Linked DNA regions of Homo sapiens. The protein of the gene in region 1 purifies or fractionates together with the protein of each later gene. This does not show direct contact. Each region holds a gene or a part of one and is shown in the gene's direction. Other genes may lie near its edges. The genes, in order: SZT2 and MIOS.

The links.
Region 2: the proteins of SZT2 (region 1) and MIOS purify together in Homo sapiens (affinity purification with western blotting; one study listed by BioGRID and IntAct). This does not show direct contact.

Annotation. Positions count from the first base shown.
Region 1 is NC_000001.11:43,396,336-43,400,162, forward strand, and holds part of SZT2 (KICSTOR complex protein SZT2), read left to right. Parts: intron 1-3,827.
Region 2 is NC_000007.14:7,587,159-7,590,985, forward strand, and holds part of MIOS (GATOR2 complex protein MIOS), read left to right. Parts: intron 1-1,339; coding exon 1,340-1,405; intron 1,406-2,246; coding exon 2,247-2,405; intron 2,406-3,827. UniProt on the Homo sapiens protein: As a component of the GATOR2 complex, functions as an activator of the amino acid-sensing branch of the mTORC1 signaling pathway. The GATOR2 complex indirectly activates mTORC1 through the inhibition of the GATOR1 subcomplex.

The DNA of each region.
Region 1 (3,827 bases):
CGTTTGGCAGAGGGTCAGATTCTCCCTGTGTGGCCTTAGAAGGTAAAACAAAAAGTGGGTTAGATATTTTCAAGACAACAGATTTTAAGAGTAGGTCAAGATATTATCAAAAAGACAGATTCTGGCTCTATGTGAGGACATTCCCAACTCTACCAACTAAACAGGTATGGGCAAAAAAAACAAAGAAACAACACTGAAGTGAATGGCTGTGCAGGACTTCTGACTCAAAGAAGAGAGGTAAACAGCAACACTTTGTTATTACTAATCTGTGCATTTATACACGTTACTTTTTACAAGGTGCTTTCACACATCATTGGGCTAGCTGGTATTTTTACACAGGAGGAAGCTCACCCAGAGTCTTAGCTGTCAAATCACAACACTTTCTTTCTGTAACACTGTTCTTTCTAAAACAAAGCTAATGGAACATAAAGCAAATCTGTTAGAACCCCCATTTGCACTCCCCCAGGGTTCCAGGAACAATAAAGAAGAAGATACTAGTGAAAATGTGGTAAAAACGATGTTTGTGGAAGCAAAGGAAAAACTCCAAAAATAGAATAGCTTACCTTGTCCATAAATGATTGAAAGATGAAGTGAATAAAGGACAGGAACTCTTCGTCAACAAAAACCATGTTGATAGAAGAGTGAAAAATTAGAAATTATTGGTAACAAATTAAGAATAGCTGGAAACAGAATAAATACAGCTTGTGAGATTAGTTTTCCTTGTTCATACATGTATTCAACAGTTATTATTAGAACACTTAGTATGTCTTGGCACTGTGCTAGGCTCTAGGGTTACAGCAAGAAACAATGTATAGGCCAGGTGTGGTGGCTAACACCTGTAATCCCAGCACTTTGGGAGGCTGAGGCCAGTGGATCACCTGAGGTAGAAGTTCGAGACCAGGCTAACATGGCAAAACCCTGTCTCTACTGAAAATACAAAAATTAACTGGGTGTGGTGGCACGTGCTTATAGTCCCAGCTACTGAGGAGCCTGAGGCAAGAGAATCACTTGAACCAAGAGGCGGAGGTTGCAGTGAGCCAAGATGGCACTGCTGCACTCCAGCCTGGGTGACAGAGCGAGACTCCATTTCAAAAAAAAAAAAAGAAAAGAAACAATATGTAGACATGGCCTCCACCTCGCTGGATCTTCAGACTTATACAGGAAACAAACATTAAAGTATACAAATTCTTTTTTTTTTGAGATGGAGAGATGGATGGAGTCTTGCTCTGTTGCCCAGGCTGGAGTGCAGTGGTGCAATCTTGGCTCACTGCAGCCTCCACCTCCTGGGTTCAAGCGATTCTCCTGCCTCGGTCCCCTAAGTAGCTGGGACTACAGATGTGCTCCACTATGCCCGGCTAATTTTTGTATGTTTTGGTAGAGGTGGGGTTTCGCCACATTGGCCAGGCTGGTCTCGAGCTCCTGGCCTCAGGTCATCCACCCACCCCGGCCTCCCAAAGTGCTGGGATTACAGGTGTGAGCCACTACGCCCGGCCCCTACAAATTCTTAATTATAAACTCTGGCAGGTGTCATGAAGAAAAAATACAGAGTGCTGTGTGAATGCCCAACATAGGACCCTAACTTAGTGCAGACAGTCATGGAAAGGTTCATTTATTAAACCTAGATTTGCCGTGATTTTAGTCCTAGAAGATGAGGTGACCACGTGCCCAACTCTGTCCTTATAGTGCTGACCCACAACCATGTGCTCTTCCCCTTTTAACCCTGGCCTTACGTGGGCCAAAACGCTTTTCCTTGGTTTTTCCTTGCATAGCTGAAACAGGCTGGCATTTGAAAACAAAAAGTATTTAGTACCAAAGAACAAAAGGAAAGTAGTGTTGACACTAGTGTTAAGGTGATCTCATCTTGAGAAAAGTTGTACTAATTATGATTAGTTTTAAATGTCCAGTTTGCCGTGCTTAGAACATATAGCGAGAGGGGAAGAGGTGGTGGTGGGGAGAAAAAACCATAGCGAATTCACTTATTTAGAGAAATGTTATTGAACATCCTATGTGCCAGGCACTGCACTGGGCTCTGGAGACAGAGTGATAAACAAATGACTGCTGAATTAGGATAGCCTTCCTATTCTGATAATGCTCTGAGCCCCAAACCATCCCTTAACAAAAAAATTCTTTTTTAAAACTCCAGTAAGTCTCTTGTACATGCTTTTTTAGATAAGAACTTTGGCAGTATCCAGCATAGTCAACACATAATATCCCACCCACACTAGCTAAGTCAAACCTGAAGGAGAGGTTGCCTGGTTTAGTATCCCACCCTAAAACCAAGGATCAGAGAAAGAAAGGGTGAGTAATTGCTGTGATTTCCTTCTTTGCCAATAAATAGACCCCTTTTCTGTTTTTAGGAGCATGGCGATAAGAGTGTACAATTTGATGGGACTTTTCGATGGGGTGTGGTAGTCAGGAATAACTATCTACTTTTTGTAGCTAACTTAGAAATCATTTTGCAGTAGGTTGGGTGCGGTGGCTCACGCCTGTAATCCCAGCACTTTGGGAGGTGGAGGCGGGCAGATCACAAGGTCAGGAGTTCGAGACCAGCCTGGCCAATATGGTGAACCACCATCTCTATTAAAAATACAAAAAATAGCCAGGCATGGTGGCATGCCCCTGTAGTCCCAGCTACTCAGGAGGCTGAGGTGGGAGAATCGCTTGAACTGAGAAGGCGGAAGTTGCAGTGAGCCGAGATTGCGCCACTACACTCCAGCCTAGGCGACAGAGCGAGACTCCGTCTCAAAAAAAAAAAAGAAAAAAATCATTTTGCAGCGTATTGGTTTCCAATGCTACTTTAATCATCCTTGATACCTTCCTTTTTGTTACTTTCCTCCTATGTCCTGACTTATAATTAATCACCAGTTCTTTTCTGTCCTATCCTAAAGATCCCTTGAAATACAACTAAGTTCACTGTTTAGTTCAGCTGACTTTTTGTTTTCCATAATAAGACTTTCACCGTGAAAGATAGTGGTGGTTTTGCATCCTGGCATTATCTCATCAAGACCCAGTCTCACACAGTTCACAGAATGGCTACTTTGAGTAGCTCTAGTCTAAGCCACTGTCATCTCCCCTAGTTGTTAGTCTGCGGTGGGAGGGTGCTTTCTAAATCACACAGTAGCCAGAGGGAATTTTTTTTTTTTTTTTTTTTTTGAGACGGAGTCTCGCTAGGCTGGAGTGCAGTGGCGTGATCTCGACTCACTGCAAGCTCCGCCTCCCGGGTTCACGCCATTCTCCTGCGTCAGCCTCCTGAGTAGCTGGGACTACAGGCACCCGCCACCACACCCAGCTAATTTTTTGTATTTTTAGTAGAGACGGGGTTTCGCTGTGTTAGCCAGGGTGGTCTCGATCTCCTGACCTCGTGAACCGCCTGCCTTGGCCTCCCAAAGTGCTGGGATTACAGACGTGAGCCATGGTGCCCGGCCACCAGAGGGAATTTTTTTTAATGCAGATATAATGTTACTGTCTTGTGGAATTCCTTTAGTAGCTTAAACTCACTCAAAGGATGAATCCAAAATCCTAGCCAGGACCTGTCTCAACACAGTGTTGGAAAGCAGTGTAACAGAGAGTAGTATCTCCCAAGGTGTAATTTCATTTTATTATTATTTTTATTTATTTTTTGAGACAGAATCTTGCTGTTTTGCCCAGGCTGGAGTGCAGTGGTGTGATCATAGCTCATTGCAGCCTCAACCTCCCAGACTTAAGCGATCCTCCCACCTCAATCTCCCAAGTAGCTAGGACTACAGGTGCTCACCACCATGCCGAGCTAATTTTTGTATTTTTTTTTTAGAGATGGACTTTCACCGTTTGCCCAGGCTGTTCTCAAA
Region 2 (3,827 bases), on another chromosome or scaffold:
CACCACCATGCCGGCTAATTTTTGTATTTTTAGTAGAGACGGGGTTTCCTCATGTTGGCCAGAAATATCAATTCTGGTCTCGAACTCCTGATCTTGAATGATCCACCTGACTTGGCCTCCCAAAGTGCTGGGATTACAGATGTGAGCCGCCATGCCCTGCCCCAGTATCCTTGTTTTGCTATACATAAATTTGAGTTATTAGATAACAGTCATCTTGAGTACGAAGTTCATATTTCCAAGCTGTTTCATTTATGTATTTAGTTATACTTTATGTATAAATAATTATAATTAATGTTGCTATTTAAAAAATGTTAATAGTAATGTGAAAAGTACTGAATTGGGAAGTCGGAAAATACAGGCCTGACTCCTTGCTCTGCCCCATTTACCATAGCCATTCAGTTAATTTTTTTGAGTATTACTTTCTCGAGATGTAAAATGGGACAGAATAATGTTTATAACTCTTTCCAGATCAAAATTTTGTAACATATGCAACTGAATCTAAGAGTTAAATCTAGTTATATGAAATATGTTCTCTCTTTAGGGCAAAACCATATTTTATCATAGAAAAAATATGCTAAGATATAGGTATCAACTGAAGTGATCTTACGGTTAAAAAAGTAAAATTTTCATAGGATGACTTCAGTGGAAATTGGATCTTTTTTCCACCCTTAAATTATTTTTACAAATTACAAAATTAATTGTACCTTCCTACATTTGTAGTAAATATATTTCAAAAGTGTTTCATGATATTGACGAGTTTACAAAAATTTTAGTTATTATAATGCCTCTGAAATCTTTGCCACAAACCACCTATATAACAACTTTAGCCACAAGAGTGTGTCTGTTTATGTTTTAAAACTTGTCACTTTGTACTTGGAAACGTATATTGGTATTCTTCTAAGTTGTGTACTGGTGTAGCCAATTCACAAATTTCTTAGACTTACTGATTAACTTAGTAGCCAAGGAAAGATTTCCTTAGTTCTCTAAAATTAATTTCTATGATGGAAAGATTATGTGGCATCTTAAATTTGATATACTGTGCATCATTGCTTATGTTTTATGTTATGTAAGACTGACCTGGATTTTTAAAAACTGAATTTGGCTAGTGTTTAAAAGGTAAATTTTTACTTTGCAAGGACAAAACCTTATTGCTGAATTTCCTAAGAGTTACATCAAGAAAGGCATCTCAGGCAATTAATGGCTCTGCAAGATAAATATAACTTATTAATAAATTTGGAAATAAACATATTCATTTTATTTATATAAAACATTCAGTCTCTGCAAAAATTTAAAACCAGTGCGCCTAGAAGTAACTCCTTGCTTTTTCTCTTCTTTCCAGTATGAAAACAAAGTTGCAGTACGTGACAGAGTGGCATTTGCTTGTAAATTCCTTAGTGATACTCAGGTGAAAACTGATTTAATTCCACATTTGAAGTAATTAATATGTACTGTCACAATTATGTAAGAAACTAGTCTTTATAATTACATATGTATGAGATTGATAAGCTAATTCTTCTAAAAAGTATGGTAAGAATTTATTAGATAAAAATATTTTGAAAATGTCTACCATAACTAAATTTATTTGTTTAGAATACTGACAATATTTTAGTATATTTCTTCTTTGGAGGGTAAGATTAGTTAGTAGGTAAAGATGTTAAACTCACCTCTTAGTGATGCTATGAAAGGGTTCCTCATTTTTACTACATTAAACAATGCTAAATGCCTATGCTGTGTATATAGTGAGGGGGAAATGCATGTAAACAACCAGTAATACTATATGCTAAGTACTATAATAATGAAAAATGCTGGGGAAAGATGGAGGAATCTTGGCAAGAGTTTGGGGTGGGTTGAAGTCAGGGAAGACCTAAAGGAAGTTATTCTTGATGATCTTAAAGTTCCCTTCCAACTCCAGATTTTGTGATTCTGTTACATACTACTATGATAGACAGCAAAAATTTCGCAGAATAATGAGGACAATTATCTTTAAAATAATAAACCATCTATAGTTCTTTTATGGATTAATTATCAACATAATAAATGCCTTTTTAAAATATTTTAAATGATTATGGATATTGCTTTGAAATTTGTAATAGATGCAGACTTCTTAGTTAAATATTTATATTTTAGTAAAGTCTTTTGTTTTAAAATGTTTTCCATTAGGAATGAAATTGTTCAAAATGTAGTTTTGAAGTACAAAATACATAGTGAAACAGATTGCTTTAGAAAAATCACTTTAAATTTTCCAGTTAAATAGATACATCGAAAAGTTGACCAATGAAATGAAAGAGGCTGGAAATTTGGAAGGAATTTTGCTTACAGGCCTTACTAAAGATGGAGTGGACTTAATGGAGAGTTATGTTGATAGAACTGGAGATGTTCAAACAGCAAGTTACTGTATGTTACAGGTCAGTGCAGTTTGACAGCAGCTTTTAAAAAAGTAACAATATTCTATATTTTCTTTCCTCAGTTGAAAGTAAATATGCACTTTTGCTTGCTTAGGATCTTTAGAAGGCATTTAGTTTTAACCTAATCAGTTGATCTACTGAAGACTTGTGCCTTATCTTACTGTCCCTAAGCCTCTTCATTGAGTTATCCAGTTTTTCCTTTCAGTCTGAGAAGGGCCAGTCTTGACTGCATCTGAATTTATGTAAAGCTCAAATTGAATAGAGAAACTCTCTTCAGTTTCTCCAATTGTTGACATAACTGCATCTTCTACAAGAAAGATTGGCTTTTCCTGATCTCAACTATAGTCTTACTTGAAGTGCTGAAGTCTAGTTATACCACAGCTCTCAGCTTTCATTTTCTCTTTTTATTATCATTGGGGGTATTTGGGGTAACCAATTTATCCATATTTTCTCAATTTTTACTGTCCAGTGATTAAAAACAGATTCCAGGCATAGATTGCTGTCTACTTTACTTTTGCTGGAAATAATGGTAAAATTTAGAGTATTCTCCTGAGATTTCCTGTAGCCCTCCAGTTGATCTTATCCTTACATGATGTTGGTACCCTCCTCTTTCCTGCCCTCATCCTCATATCACAATATGGTAGCATACTGTGTACTGGGTGAACACAGGAAAATGCCCCCTCTCCCACTGCACCTTCTTGTGCATATATAGAGACACTAGCCCACAGACCACAAAGTAAACTTACCTAATGTATCAAGCCACTGCCCATGGAAGAAAAAGTACCCTTCTATAACATTTTTTCTTGTTGAGATAAAATTATGTCTTTTAAATTAAAGTGTATGTATATGGCTGTAGATGGCTACAGAGTGCAAATGAGTTAGTAACTTCTTACCAAGATTTATAAAATATATTTAAAATGCAGACAATACAGATCTTGCTTTTTTAAAATCCAGTCTGATAATTGCTGCCTTTAATTGGAGTGTTTCCTTCATTTACATTTATATGGTCATGGTTAAGTCTACCATCTTGCTGTTTGTTTTCCGTTTTGTTTGTCCTTTTTCCTTTTGTTCCTATGTTCCTTTCCTACCTTATTTTGGGTTAATATTTCCATGTTTCATTTTATTGCCTCTATTGGCTTTTTAGCTATATCTCTTTTCATTATCTTTTTTAAAAGATGTTGCTGTAGATCTAACAATATGCATCCCTCAACTCATCAAAGTCAACATTTTACCCCCTCATACTTCACATTTCTCACCTGACACATCATGCTTTCTTTCTACTTTACCCTTTCTTATGTCACTCTGACACTTTCTGGGTTTTACTTCATGCTTCACAAATGTCACAACAGTGTGATTTCATTTACACATCCATTCCTTTGTCCTATTGTCATATATTTTACTTTTACAGATATTATATACTCC